Homo sapiens: one gene and its partners. The protein of the gene in region 2 purifies or fractionates together with the protein of the main gene of each other region. This does not show direct contact. Each region holds a gene or a part of one and is shown on either strand. Other genes may lie near its edges.

What was found.
Region 1: the proteins of SLC9A6 (region 2) and MAN2A2 purify together in Homo sapiens (affinity purification with mass spectrometry; 2 studies listed by BioGRID and IntAct, with this or other methods). This does not show direct contact.
Region 3: the proteins of SLC9A6 (region 2) and TBC1D32 purify together in Homo sapiens (affinity purification with mass spectrometry; 3 studies listed by BioGRID and IntAct, with this or other methods). This does not show direct contact.
Region 4: the proteins of SLC9A6 (region 2) and CDK20 purify together in Homo sapiens (affinity purification with mass spectrometry; 3 studies listed by BioGRID and IntAct, with this or other methods). This does not show direct contact.

Annotation. Positions count from the first base shown.
Region 1 is NC_000015.10:90,916,802-90,920,301, reverse strand, and holds part of MAN2A2 (alpha-mannosidase 2x), read right to left. Parts: intron 2,109-3,500; coding exon 1,914-2,108; intron 1,658-1,913; coding exon 1,547-1,657; intron 668-1,546; coding exon 515-667; 3' UTR 1-514.
Region 2 is NC_000023.11:136,008,631-136,013,995, forward strand, and holds part of SLC9A6 (sodium/hydrogen exchanger 6), read left to right. Parts: intron 1-1,811; coding exon 1,812-1,953; intron 1,954-4,318; coding exon 4,319-4,424; intron 4,425-4,718; coding exon 4,719-4,807; intron 4,808-5,365. UniProt on the Homo sapiens protein: Endosomal Na(+), K(+)/H(+) antiporter. Mediates the electroneutral exchange of endosomal luminal H(+) for a cytosolic Na(+) or K(+).
Region 3 is NC_000006.12:121,303,481-121,306,980, forward strand, and holds part of TBC1D32 (protein broad-minded), read right to left. Parts: intron 1,354-3,500; coding exon 1,275-1,353; intron 1,146-1,274; coding exon 1,042-1,145; intron 947-1,041; coding exon 885-946; intron 282-884; coding exon 137-281; intron 1-136.
Region 4 is NC_000009.12:87,968,738-87,971,533, forward strand, and holds part of CDK20 (cyclin-dependent kinase 20), read right to left. Parts: intron 2,599-2,796; coding exon 2,410-2,598; intron 2,161-2,409; coding exon 2,039-2,160; intron 1,909-2,038; coding exon of another isoform or gene 1,894-1,908; coding exon 1,831-1,893; intron 1,183-1,830; coding exon 1,059-1,182; coding exon of another isoform or gene 1,038-1,058; exon of another isoform or gene 1,037-1,037; intron 613-1,036; coding exon 457-612; intron 131-456; exon of another isoform or gene 1-130. UniProt on the Homo sapiens protein: Required for high-level Shh responses in the developing neural tube.

The DNA of each region.
Region 1 (3,500 bases), on a different chromosome or scaffold from region 2:
TGCTAACTCTGGGTCCCCACCCCTGTCCTCCCAGAGTCACTCTGATCCTGCTCATCACACCAGGACATGGAGTCTCTACATAACCACAGGATTCCCCTAGAGCCTGCTGTTGCCACAGTGACCCTGATGCTGGGCTGTTACCCACTTAGCCTCCCTTACCTCTTCTGTCTGCTTCCACCACTTCTATATCCCTGTTTGGAAAAAGGATGGGTGCCTGAGCCTGTGCCCAGTTGGGTGTCCACTCACAACCCAAAGCAGAGCCTGGCACTGCCCACTCTGACCAAGGGCCTTCTCTCCCTGATCTCACTGGCGTCTGCCCTATTTACCCATCACTGGGTTTGTGGGTTGCGCCGAAAACACAGCAGCAGCAATAAACAGAAAATGAGGGCAGAGCCCAGTGTGTCACAGTTCTGGGAGGCAGATCGGGATGGGATACCCGTGTGGCTTGTCCAATGATCTTCATGTTAAGAGGCAGTCTCTGTGAATGAACTTTCTCTTCAGGCCACAAGAAGCCCTAACCCAAGCGGAGGCGAAAGGTAGCAATCTCCATGGGCTCCAAATAGACGTCAGTGCTGTTGGACGGGGAGGCCAGAGGGTACAGTAACGTCAAGGAGGTTGGCTGAAGGAATACCACATCCAGGCCATGGAAAAGGCTGCCCAGGGCTACCTGTGGAGAGCAGAGAAGGGGCAGGGTTGTGCTAGGTGCCGAGACACTAAAGAATGTGGCTGTTCATCTACAATTTGGTACCTCTTTAAGAATCTCAGCCAGGGGCAGTGGCTCACACCTGTAATCCCAGCACTTTGGGAGGCCAAGGCGGGTGGATCACCTGAGGTCAGGAGTTCGAGACCAGCCTGGCCAACATGGCGAAACCCCGTCTCTACTAACAATATAAAAATTAGCTGGGCGTGGGGGCAGGCGCCTGTAATCCCAGCTACTCGGGAGGCTGAGGCAGGAGGATCACTTGAACCAGGAGGCGGGGGTTGCAGTGAGCTGCGATCACGCCACTGCACTCCAGTTCCGGCTGGCCCCTCTCAGCAACACCATGCCTTCTTACACATGAGTGTGCATCCAGTCTCACGGGCTTGCTGAGATTTGCTCAACCCTAAAGCCTGCCTACAGATCTCTGGGTAAGAACCGTTCCACTGAGCTGTGAGCTCTGTGAAAACAGTGACCATGTCTTGGTTCACTTCTGAAACACTGGAGCCCAGCAGAGGACCTGGCACCCGGGGACATTTATCAGTGCCGGCTGATATGAGCTTACAAAGTAACAACAGGATGGGTTCTGGTTTTCTATTTCTGGTGTTTTCCACTTTGCTTGATAGAGGTCCCTGCTCAGGGAACAAAAGTTCTCAAGCGATCTACCTTGTCTGGAACTCCCCCTGCCAGGCCTCCGGAGCTCTGAAAACATGTCTACAGCTTCCCCCCTTCTCTCCAGAAAGCCCTGGAGTGACACTTTCTTCTCCCAGCCTGTCACCGAATCTCAGCCCAGTCTTACCAAGCTCATGCCTGCCATTCCTAGGTGCTCTGTTTCCCCACCCTACTCACCTTGCCTTGGCTTGTGGTGCAGTTGAAGCCCAAGTTCTTGGCCTCCAGGCCGCAGTCAAAACCCTTGCGGTGTAAGATGAGTGCGGTCTCCGCCGAGGGTAGGGTGTCCTCCTGGATGACAGACAGTGCCCAGGGAAGTGGGCGCAGGGCTTTCAGAGATCGGAGATGCAGCAGCGCCTCTGCCCAGAGGCAGTGCTGGCACAGGGAGGCGTGTGGGTAAGGAAAGGCCAAAACCTGGTCCTGGAGGTTTGGAGCCGAATACCTGCTAAGGGGTCTGGACCTCATCCTGGAGGCTAAGGAAGGAGCTGAGCAGGGAGGGACACCATCAGAACTCTGCTCTCAGCATGTCACGCTGAGGGACACTCACCTCAGCCTGGAGCGTACGTAGGTTGAGCAGGTGGAAGTCACAGGGCAGTGAGGAAGCCAGAGGATGAAATGAGCGCAGACCAGGGCCTGGGAGCTGCATCCTGGCTACAGGCAGAGCGAGCGCCGGGGCGTTCAGGTACATGGAGGTCAGGTGGCTGAGGAGGGATGGGTAGCTGGTAGAGTGGCTATCTTGGACCTGCAAAATTGACCCGAGATATTGGTGAGGGACCAAAGCCAGGCTGAGGGGAGAGGACGAGGCAGGATAAAAGCACACCCAGGTCAGTTGTTTTGGAAAGACCTTTCCTGGTGTGCCTGGACTCAAGGGCACGCCTGGCTCCAGGCGAGGTTCCGCTAACCCTTCAAGTGTGGACATTTGCCGTCTCCCCTAACGCAGAGGGCTACTTCACTAAGCTGTTTCTTCTCTACTTTTTAGTTCCTTGCTCACATAACACTATCATGAGCAACCCACTCCCATCAGCCATGTCTCCCCTCACACATGGATCCACAGTGCAGGGAGGATGGCAGCCAGGCAGACGCAGGCCTCACCATGGAGCACGGACCTCCAATCCAGAGTGCTCTGGGTAATCTGCGGCTTCACGAGCGATGCCACATCCACAGTGCCAGCCTGGCTCTCAGGCCCAGCGCGGCCGGGGCTCTGCCAGCAGGGCTACTCCTTAGCAGCTCACCTGGACGTCAGACTCACAGGCCTGGGCTGAATATTCTGGACTTCTGTCCCTGGCATCCCCCTTCTTCCAAGCGCCCAGCATCTCTCACTTCCCTCTGCATTCCCAGGTAATGCTAAACCCTCTTCCGTCGCACCTGGGCAGTGTCCTCATAGCCACCGGCAACTTCTCCAGCCTCTGGCCTAGTTCAAGCAGCCAGCATGTCCTGCCTGAACAGCCTCCCGCTGTCACCCTCCTCCAGTCTCCCTTCCCACAGATCCAACCTGCTCCGTACTGTCAGCGTGACATGCTGAGACCAGAGTTCTGACGGTGTCCCTCCTTGCTCAGCTCTTTCCTTAGCCTGGACCTTTCCTAGCCAGGATAAAGTCCAGATCCCTTAGCAGGCACTCAAGGTGCTCTGCCGTCTGCCCTGATCTCCCCCTAGCACTCTAGCCCAGCACCAGCCAAGAGGGCATTCTGCAAGGATGGAAATATCCGACACCACATGGTCTAATACGGCAGCCACTTAGCCACTTGAGTACTTGAAGTGTGGTCAGTAGGAATAAGAAAGCAAATTTTTTACTTGATTTAGTTGTAATTTAAATAGCCATATAGGGCTACTGGCCACCGTACTGGATAGCATAGCTCCAGCATAACTAAGGAACTCACTGCTATTCCCCAGCCTGTTGTCTTTCCTGCCTCCTATCCTGTGCCCTGGTTCATATCTTCAAATCACACCCCATTCATCAAAGCCACACCTGGGTGACACCTCCTTGACCTCGATCTCCTTAGCCCACATTATTACCTTGCTCCTCAGGATCAGTGAGACAAAGCCCTTTCTACCTTGCATTTTTACACACATGGCTTCTCTGCCACCCCTACTCACGAGTAAACTCCTGGGAGAGTCAGCACTGTCTGCACTTATG
Region 2 (5,365 bases):
CATGCATGTAACACAAAGAGGGGAAAGGAATACAGAAGGAAAATAAAATCGATCTATCAGGGTAGTGGAATGATGGGAAGATTTTTCCACCTAAACTGTACATTTTATTACTTTCAGGGTTTAAAAAAAAGTATTCATAAAAAATGCTACTGCCTCAAGATAAAATATCAATTGATACAGAAAAGATGAGTTAAGATTTCAATCCAGAGGCTAGTGTCTGCCTAAGAGAGAACAAAACGAGCCTGTCATCTGTTCTCAGCCCATCATGTTTCCCATGTGTCCTTATACATTTTAATGATTAAAGAATGAAATAATGATTAGTGTGAATCTTGAATTTACATGAACTAATCCAGGGAAAGCAACCTCAGGAGGCATGGCATAGGTATTTTGTTCCAGAGAGCATTTTGAAAAATACCACCAAAGAAAAAGAAGATTGTATAGCAATTTTTTTCTTTTCTCCAGCCAGTTACTGTATTTTCATGTTATAATGAAATCAGATCTCATTTATGGTAGTGGGACCCTTTATATATATGTAGGTAAGGTAGCATGGTGTTAAAGGCCATTTCATATTTATCAAAATGATATCAAATCTACTGTTCCAAAATGATCTGGTTGCTTTGCACATTTAAACGTAAATGTTTAACATTTTCAATTTAGAGTGAGTCTCAGAAATTTCTGGATCCCATTATCAGAAATTAATATTAGTGCTATATTTCAATAAAATAAGTACAAATTAGGAGATTTTAGTTTGATCTTAGATTTTTTTTTTAACCTGGGAGATATGAAAAGAACTTGTATATGGTATAGCAAACATTTTTCAGCCTTGAATCAGAAAAAAACATTGCAGCAACCACAGGGAGAATTCATTATATTTTTAGGAATGTGTTTTTCCTTCTTTTCTTTGACGTGATTTGTATGATGTTGTTGAGTCTGGACTTTTTATAATGCTGGTCTCTCAATTAACTGAGATGAGAACTGATTTAGTAACGGTAAGCACCGTTGCCAAAGACCTGCTGGCAACAGCAATTTTCTCAGGCATTTCTATTTCCTGGGGTGGTAACTGTTACAAAAGAAGCTTTTTCAGACCAGGTTTGGACTGTGAGTTCAAGATGGAGAGCATCTCCTATAATTGCCTGTCTTGGCCTGGTATAGAGTGACTTTCTTTCAGAAGTTTGAGGTGGAAGATCCAGCTGGTTATGCTGAAAGTACTGTTGAGTGGATTCTAATTCCTTGGGAGGTCTTTCGAGTGCTTTTTCCTATAATAGTCCATTTCAGTGAATGAATAGATATTAGGCATTTGGCCCATTCTAGAATTCTAAAAGTTGGAAGGGTCCTTCAGTTACCTTTTTTTCTCATAGGAAAAACAAAATGTGACTGGGTTGAGTATTGAATAATGTTCTTTATGTTCTTATGCCTCTACTGGAAACAAGTGGGATTTTTCATTAGTTTGTTCACATTAGTATGTTAAGGCTTTCGGACACTCAGTACTAGTAATTCTGAAACAGAATCACAAAAGAATAATACTGCACAGTATCTTGGGGATGGGGGAAAAAGCTTGGTGCAATTTTCATATAGAGGATTTTACAATGTTCTACCCCCCCCCCGAAATTAACATTTAAGGGAAAGCCAAGTTTTCTTGCTAGCCAGATACATTGCAGGATTTTTGGGTAATTTTGTCCTTATTTTGGCAATTCCAATCGAAAGCTTGTTTTTCTTCTCCCTCTAATTTCATCTTTCAAGCTCTATACTACATAATGTTTTTTTAAAAGTAAAGGTTGTTTTCAGAAGTAAAAGCAGTCTCTCTTCTGTAGCTCAATAGTGGCATACCAGCCAGCTGGAGACAACAGTCACACCTTTGATGTCACAGCGATGTTCAAGTCTATTGGGATCTTCCTTGGAATCTTCAGTGGATCTTTTGCAATGGGTGCTGCTACTGGAGTGGTGACAGCTTTAATATCCTTTTGTTATATTTATCTTTTCTTGTTAACATAATATAGTAGTTGAATGCTGTATTCCGTTGTTTTTCCTAGTTCTATGATTAGAATTATGTTAGAATTATTAATCTTATAACTAAGTACTTGGTTTGAAAACATTAAGCAACAGTCTTTGCCAATAAATAAATAAAAGAACTGTATTGTTCTGCATAGGGTTTGGTGCCCTAAAACTTTCACTGCAAGTGTATAATTAGAGATGATATCTCTCTGAGGGTGAATTTTATAGTTGTAGATTAAATAGCTGTAAAGGTAGACATATTCCAAAGAGCCTCTGGGTGTTCTGTGTTGCTGGTCAGCCTGGCAGTCTTTTGCTCTTTGTTTAATAGGACAAATAGGAAATGTACAACAGCGACGCCGAATGAACAAAATGTGTTTCCTTGGTTAGGATATGTAAGAGTTCATCTCAGCTCTCCCGATTTTAAACTTTGTGCTCTAGAGCCCTGGACGGGAAGCCCAAAGGACCTGAGTTGTAGTCCTGGTACTACCACTTAGTCAAGTTATTCTTGTGTTCATGCAAAGGCCATTTTATCCCGGACTTCACCACCATGCAATATATCCATGTCATAAAACTGCACTTGTGCATCCTGAATCTATAAAAACAAATTTTATTTTTATTTATTTATTTGTTTTTTTGAGACGGAGTCTCACTCTTTCGCCCAGGCTGGAGTGCAATGGCACGATCTCGGCTCACTGCAACCTCCGCCTCCCGAGTTCAAGCGATTCCCCCGCCTCAGCCTCCCAAGTAGCTGGGATTACAGGTGCGCAACACCACACCCAGCAAGTTTTTTTATATTTTTAGTAGAGATGGGGTTTCATCATGTCGGCCAGGCTGATCTCGAACTCCTGACGTCAAGTGATCCACCCACCTCGGCCTCCCAAAGTGCTGGGATTACAGGCATGAGCCACCGTGCCCGGCCTAAAAACATGTTTTAAACCCCCCACCCAAAACAAAAAGCCAGAAGGCATGTCTGGATCACCTGCTACATGTGCTGTGCTCTGTGTATCAAAGCTAAAGAAGACAAACATGACCTCTGCCTCCCTGGTGCTTTCGATATAGTGGCAGACACAAACATGCTAGAAGCTTTGACACTTCACCTCTTTGGATCTCAGTGTAGGAAATTGGAGGGTGGGGACGGTAGGAAAGAGGAGTGGGACTAGATGATGTCTAAAGAGTTTCCAGCTCTGGCCTGGTGCAGTGGCTCGTGCCTGTAATCCTAGCACTTTGGGAGGCCATGGCGGGCGGATCACAAGGTCGGGAGATCGAGACCATCCTGGCCAACACGGTGAAACCCCGTCTCTACTAAAAATTCAAAAAATTAGCCGGGCATGGTGGTGGGCGCCTGTAGTCCCAGCTACTCGGGAGGCTGAAGCGGGAGAATGGCATGAACCCAGGAGGCGGAGCTTGCAGTGAGCCGAGATGGTGCCACTGCACTCCAGCCTGGGCGACAGTGCGAGACTCCGTCTCAAAAAAACAAAACAAAACAAAAAAGTTTCCAGCTCTAAAACTTCTATGATACTTGTATAAAACAGATACGTTATTCTTTGTCAAGGACTTCTTAGTTTGGTATACTTCAGCCTTGTGCTGGAAGAGGCTTCTTTTATGGCTTTTTATAAGTGAACTGAGGCATAAAGCAGCAGTAAAAAGAGTTCTGAAGGTGATGCCAAGAGTGATAGTATCTCTTCCCCATTACAAGTTCCTTGAGGGTAGAAAGTATATCTTGTTAATCATTTTGTTGTAGTGCCTAGTTGTAGAAATGACTCTAGATTCTAGCCTGAGATTGGTCGTAACTTGGCACAGGCCCTTCCACTGTCAGCTAACAAATACTTGTTAAACTAGTATAAAGCAGTGAAGTGCCTCAATTTCTTCATCATGGAATGAATGCTCTATATCATAGAAGTGGTAGAGGATCAAATTCGTGTAAAATCTCTTGGAAATTATGTATTTTTATAAATGTAAATTGCTACAATTATGGAAGCTGTCTAGCTTTGGGTCTCAGATTAATAGAGGTGGCATGTTATAGATCTGATCTGTTACTCCCGTCTCTATCTATCCTTTACTGCATGGTTTCTGGCAAGGTGTGTGATACCCGTGAAACAATTGGAGTGGCTAAGCCGTAAGGCTTCCTCACTGAAGGGAAGGCAGCTGACTCCTCAGTAAGATGCTCATTTTAAAAGTCTCCCTATTCTGGTGGTACCTTATTCTGAGATTTCTGTGTTAGAGAAGCTAGAGAACCTTTCTTTCATGGTTGCCTTGCTTAAACTGTTATTTTTTCTAGTCACACTTTTGTGTTACAAGATCTCATTACTAGCCTTAACAGTCTTACGTGACAAAGTTCACCAAATTACGGGAGTTCCAGTTGTTGGAGACAGGCCTGTTCTTCTTGATGTCCTGGAGTACCTTCCTCTTGGCTGAAGCATGGGGCTTCACAGGTAGGTGACTTGCTCCCTTTGATTGTCAACCCTTAAAAGGAGTGACTTTGCCAGTCAATTTTGCTCCAAGTGGATCAGCTCCGTTAGTATTTGAACATACTTATTGTGGTTGGGATTTAGGTTGTTGCTTTAGAACATAAAAAAAAATTTTCAGTGGAAGTGGTTCCTCTTAACAAAGTAAGTCACAAATGAGAATTTCCAGACAAAGCCTATAATCTACTGTGAAGAAAGAACCTCAGTATAAAAGGTGGGAACCATCCTTTTATGTGAACTTGGAATTTGTTGTCTTTATAGGTGTAGTTGCAGTATTGTTTTGTGGCATCACACAAGCACATTATACGTATAATAATTTGTCCACGGAGTCTCAGCATAGAACTAAACAGGTAAGAGGAACTTTATAGTTTGTGAATAGGCTTTTCCTTCTTTCAGCAAAATAGAAGTCTTTTTTACTAAAAAAAAAAAATAGTCTTTGATCTGTTCAAGATGCTATCTACTCATTTTGGCTCCTCTTCCTTTGACTCTAAAAGTAGGTGGGATTGGCAAAATGAAGAATGACAGCATTTAGGGTGGAAATAGATCAGCAGAATAGCCAGAGACTGTTACTATTGTGGCTTCAATAACCAGTGAAGTAGCTTCCCTTTTTCTCAGTGTTTTCCCAATTTAATGGCTTTTAAGGGGAATGTTTTGGAAGCTCACTCTGGTTTTACTTGAACTACTGCTGTGTGACGTAGATAAGGTTAACTTCTGATCTGACCAGACCTACTAAGAGATGACATAAAGAAAATTAACTTCTGATATTACTAGACCTTCTAAGACATGACATAGGTAAGATTAGCTTCTGATCTGATTAGACCTACTAAGAGAAGATAAACTTCCTTCAGTCCGCTCAGGTGCTGCAAAGCTACTATGTTTCCAGGAATGTCAGGGGACTAGTCAGTGGT
Region 3 (3,500 bases), on a different chromosome or scaffold from region 2:
GTTTTATAAGAAATAAATGAGCTAACACATGTAAAAGTGATTAGAACTCTTAGCACACAGTATTCAAACATTAACTATTTATTAAAATGATATAGCAATGCACTAAAAGGTATAAAAATATTCTATTTTTCCTTACCATCCACTTTTTGAACCACACAGCCTTGGTATCAACTAATGCAAAAAAGTAGATCGGATCCAAAATCTTTTGTGAGACAACATGGCTTTGATTATGTTTAACTGTTAACAAGGACAAAGTACTCTCCACAATTTCTTCCATATACCTTAAAGTTTGGGAAAAAAGAAATACAATTACACATATAGTTCTGGTGGTATACTTTATATTCATGGAATGATAAAGTAGCATATAATCTTCAGAAACATTTTTTCTATTTCAGTAAATGACAGGTAGGATTCATACTCAATGTTTCTGCTTTAACTACAGGTTCTTTCTACTTCAACACTGGATCTGTGAATTTAACTTTCCTTTTCAGACTCACAGATTATCTTACAACTTAGTATAAATTTTAGAGCTGAAAGGAAAAAGTTTAAAGAATATTTAAGGAACTTGTCCAAAATGCAATAGCAAAGACCAATAAGAACCTAACGCAGACCTTCAAATCACTGATACATTAAAAAAAAAAAAAAACTAATGCTACATTTTTTTTACCTTGTGATAAATGATGTAAAGTGGTACCTGTATACAGTAATTCACATAGCTAAGTATAAAACATGACAAGCTGAAGAAAAATAAAAATAAAAATTTTATTAATCCCTTCCCAATCAGGTAAGTCCATTAAGACTGTCTTTACTCTTTCTGTCTGAAACGTATATGGGGCAGTAACACCGCTAGGTTTTATGCTGGCATACATTGGGAGGGGACTTACTTCTCTGGATGACGAATCCAGAAAGATGGAGCTTCTTTCTGATATTCATTTAGAAGACGAACCTACAAAGCAGTGCACAATAGTTCTCAAAAAATTAGCATCCTCAAATATAAAACTAAATAAATAAAAATGAAAGCATATTGTAGTAAATGGATACCTTTTTAAGTAAGCGAGTCATATTAGGATTAGTTATATCTACACCAGCTGAAAGAGTAGGAATATGATTTTCCCTAGAAAGAAAGTATGACTCCAAATACTTAGCTGAAAAAAAAGGGAAAACATAAAATTACATCATTCATTTACAGTGCTTTCTGAAAAAAATTATTTCCTATCCATTCTTAAGTACATGCAAATGACAAAAAACATTTTTAAATGTTTTCACAAACATACCTAAGCTTGTATAAATTTCCTTGGTCATATGTAATGGAGAAAGCAAAAATGTCTGTGCACAGAATTTTAAAATCCGGTCCTACGGAAATGAGACAGAAAATTTGCATCTAAGATCTCACAAGAATAGAATAGAGATGAAACATTTTTCACACAGTAAAAACTCAGAAAATAAAATAAATACAAATAAACCATTCAGAAACTAGAGTCAGAATGTACTTATTTAAAAAGGGCACACTCTGTGTCAGCAAAAATTAAAACTGACCAAAACTAATATGTGAATCTAATAACAGAAAGCTATTACTGCACAATCCGGTCATAGTATATACTGACATGGTGAGGAGGGGGTAAGGTGAGGTTTCATAGAGGAGACAATGTAAAGGTGTCAAACAAAGGAACAGAGTAGGCAGTACTAAATTTTTTTAACACCCCGTATTTCCAAATCGAAAATTCATCATTTTTAATTGCTTACATGGGTAGCTTCAGTAATTAGAGATTTAGAATTATTTCTAATAATTTTGCCTATTCCCAAGAAAATTACTCTATGTTTAAATTTTTACATTATTAAAACTCTAAAATAGAAACCATTAGAAGGTAAATAAGTTAAAAGTGGCAACAGATGTAGTTAGCATAATGCCTGGCACTAAGAGTTACTTTAAAATGGTAGCTATTATTATCCCTTTAATTATACCTACTTTATTAATATCATGATAAGATTAATCCTAATAGTGAAATTCAACTTTCCATTAAATAAAAACATAAAATTGCCTTAAATAGTCTAATCTGGGGGGGGATTAATAACACTGTTGATACCAGTTTAGATAATCCACTTACAAGAAATAGTTCCCCAAGTTACTGAAAATATCTTCTAATGGCCCCAAGAAATTCCTACTGAACAAAGGATATTAAATACTTTGGGAAGTCTATTTTTATAGTTGCAGCAACTGATAGGTATCTGTCATACTTTTCAACCCTATAGGCTTCACTCAGTTGCATGTAAGAGTCCTTTAGAGGAGGAGATGAAGAAATAGAATTGAACTCAAAAAGAATTTGGATCAAGCACAAATTTAAAATGAAAAAAACTCCATGCCTTGTTTTCTACTTCAAAATGACTAATTTTATTACCATCTCTCCTCTATAATAATTGCTTCCAATTTTATTAGCGTAAGTAATAAAACTGAACCTTGCTGCATAATAATTTAAAATGGCTACAATTTGCTATTTTGTAAAGTTATTTCATAATTTATAAAATAAAGGAAACCTATTCTGCTACTATTCTGTATTTATTAAGTAAAAGAAAAAATACGGGGAAATTTACAATTGCATCCGTCGTTAGAGAGCATGAAATGTTAAAGATAACCCTGAGATAATATGTTTTCACCTTGAAGTTCTTGGATCATTGAGCTGTTCCAGAAGTCTACAATACCCTCTGGTGTTAACAAGGTTGAACTGCATCCAAGTATTAGGTAAACACCTTCCCTTTATGAGAATTACAAACAGTGATTCCCAAACCACTTCTGTTTACCAGTATAATCATATCTTTATTAATGGTAGACAGTAGACTGATTTTAAATAGACAAACATATTGCGATACCTTAAATTTTTCTACAACTATTTATTTATCGTCTGTGTTATCTACTGAAATCTAAGTTCTCTGAGGGTGAAGATTTTGTGTCCTGTCCATGGTGTGTTCCCAGTGTCTAAACGAGAATGATACACACTGTAGATACTCAATATATATTTGCTGAACAAAGAGCAAAATGTAACTCTTCTGCTAATGCCTTAAATTCTATGCCAAACATCATATCGATTTTAAAGCCAAAACTATCTTCACTGATATATCAATTAGGAAGAAAAGATCCTCTATAAGGAAATCCAATTTGTGTTTAAAATGCAATTCTTGGATAATCAGGGGTTTTCTTTTCATTCCCATCATAGATACTACCTGTAGAATTACTGCACTTGTTAATGTAAAGCTTACTTTTCATCATATGATAACTGTTCCTAAAAAGTCATATGCAAACCAATTTTTAAATAAAATCATATCTACTGACTTCATAATTTTACAATTTTAGAAACTTTCTATATTTGCTTTATGATTCACCTCAAATTATTTTCTAAAATCTCAACATTAGTTTTCTAGCTTCTTTCTTTAAGCAGTTAAGCAATCTCTAAGTAAACACTTAAATACAAGAGGAAAATGTTTATAAGCCCTTTCGAATAAACCAT
Region 4 (2,796 bases), on a different chromosome or scaffold from region 2:
ACCTCACCACCAGGAGTGCCCCGCGGAGGTAGGACTGATTGTTTACCATCTGTGCAGGGCCCAGGACAATCCCTGCATGTGCCAGATGTGCAGAAAATACTTGCTAATGGAATAAAGGAATGAGTCCCCAGTGACTCTCTTACTGTATCTGCCACAGGGTCAGGGGCAGCCCAGAAACCTGCACTCCCGGACACGCGCTCTCCTGAGAGTTGGGCATGCCCCTCGTATGGGCCACCCTCAGGGGAAGTCTGGGGATGTCCAGTGGGGTCTACTCATGAGAGGCACACCTGCTCCAAGGCCCCTGTCCCCTGGGTTCCAGATGTCTGGTGCTGGTCCATGCCAATCACAGGTTCTGAGGGTCGCTGATGTGATGGGGTCACATGGCTACCAAGTACAGAGTACCAGGGTGATGGGGAGGGGAGCTGAAGGAGCAGAGACTACAGCCTCTCCCCCTACCTTGGAAGCTGCGATGCGCTGGTGAGGAGGGTAGAGAAGGAATTGACCCAGCAGATCCAATGCCTGGGGAGAGACGTCAGGCAGCACCTCCTCCAGGGGCATGGGCACCTGCTCCTTAAAGGAGATCTTGTTGTAGTCCGGCAGCTCAGTGAGCTCCTGGGCCAGGGAGAAGGAACAGGGTACAATGAGAGTAGTTCCCGACCCTTGCCATGCTCTCTGCTGTCAACTCTCAGCCCCTAACACACACTCACATGGGGGGTGCTCTCCCATCCATGTGTCTCCCTGACCCATCATTCATTCACTCACCCACCCCTGTATTCCTTCATCCATCCCCTTGCCCTCTCAGATGACGACTCTGTGCACAGCTTGCTGAGACACTGCACATGTGTGTACTGGGGTGAAAAGGGACAAAGGACAGGATCTACCCCAACCCAAATGACAGCAGGAAGGAGGAAGCCCTGAGTTGGGCCAGGACAGTGGTCCCTGTCCATCAAGGGGGGTTGGGGCCAGGAGAGAGAAGGTTCAGGGGAGGGAGTGGTTACTTGCTGTTGGGAGTGGAGTAAACCTGCCCCACACCCACCTCACCAAGGGCCCCTACAAACCGGCCAGACTTGAGGGTTTGGGGTGCCCAAGATGCGAAGCACATAGCAAAGCTGTTCAATATCGTTCTTGCCCGGGAAAAGGGGGGACCCATTCAACAGCTCCCCCATGATGCAGCCCACAGACCTGTGGACACAGAGCCCCAAGCAGGTCAGAGATCTCCCACCATGGACCACAGACCCACCCACAGAGCAGCTCTAACACTGCACTCCAGGGCAAGGCCCCACAAGCCAGCCCTGGAGCCTCACGTCCAGAGGCCCAGTCCCTGAACCCTCAAAGCCCTCAACCCTAGAACCCAGAGCAAAGCCCCAGCTGTTCCAAGACTTCTCGGAGACTCCTGCTCTAGGACACTTCTGGGGCAGACCTGCAAACCTGCCCCAAATCTCAGACCCATGGGCACTGCCAACTATCTTCTTGCTGCAAAACAAGCTCAGAGCTTTCATGTCCAAGGACACAGGCCTCTGACCAGCTCAGAGATGCCATATCCTAGGATCTAACTCCAGCACATATCGGCTCAGACCACCTCCCCATCTAGCCCAGAAAGCTTCCCACCTGGGACCACCATTCTCATCCCACCTGGCCCCTACCCAGCTCGAAAACATCATAGTGAGGAACCCCAACCCCAAAGTGCTCAGAATACCCCAACCAGGGAAGACACCCTTAAGGAAGCCTAAACTCCCACCAGGGAAAAGACCACCAAACAGCTCAGAGACCTCAGAGCCTAGCAGAAATCCATGAGCCATGTTACCCTTTGACCACCCACAGGGGTCTCACCACAGATCGACGCCCTGGTCATACTGGCGGGCACCATACAGGAGCTCGGGGGCTCGGTACCACCTGCGAGGAAGAGGGCTGGCAGGCACTGGGCTGAGAAAAGGATGCCTGGGGAGGTGACCCCAGCCCCACAAGCAATGTCTGGAGAAAAGGCCCAGAAGCATCTCTTCCCCATGGAGAAGACTGGAAGGGATCTGGCCCTCCCTACCTGGTGGCCACCTGGTGTGTGTAGAGGCGGCTGCCGTCTGGGGAAAAGACTCGAGCCAGGCCAAAGTCCGCTATCTTGAGCTGGCCTGAGGCGCTGATGAGCAGGTTGGCAGGTTTCAGGTCCTGGGAGTACCAAAAGAAGCATCAGTCCCTCCAAATCCCCCATAGGACCTTGGGACAAGCGGGCTTGGCAGTCTAACCACTCAGGTCAGCCCCGGTCCCCACCTCCTCCAGGGCCATGCCCTGGCCACTTACCTGGAGGCCTTGACCAGCTCTGTCCCAACTTCTTATCACACCTTTTACAAGGGCTAGCCCCATCCCCAAGCCAAGTCAGCTCCCCAGACCCCATGCCCGGCCTATGCTGAGACTGACCCGATGTACAATGTTGTTGGCATGGCAGAAGGCGACACCCTTGAGCAGCATCTGCAGGTAGCTCTTGACCTGTGCCTGGGCTAGTGGCCTCTGGGCATGGCGCACCACCTCGGCCAGATCCGACAGCATGAACTCAAAGGCCAGCACAAAGCCTCCACCGTGTGGGAACACAGCCTTCAGTTGTACCACCTGTGGGCAGGACATCTTGTTAGCCCCCAGACTCAAGTCACCAGACCCTCTCTGTGACCCTGAGACCCCAGCCCATGCCCTGACAGAGGACCCTGTATCCAAAAAGACAGTAAGCAAAGAAGGTGACGTGGACCTGAGCTAAGAATCAGAGAGCTCGATGCTCATGATTTGCTCTGCTCTCCTGAGATAAGGTGTGCC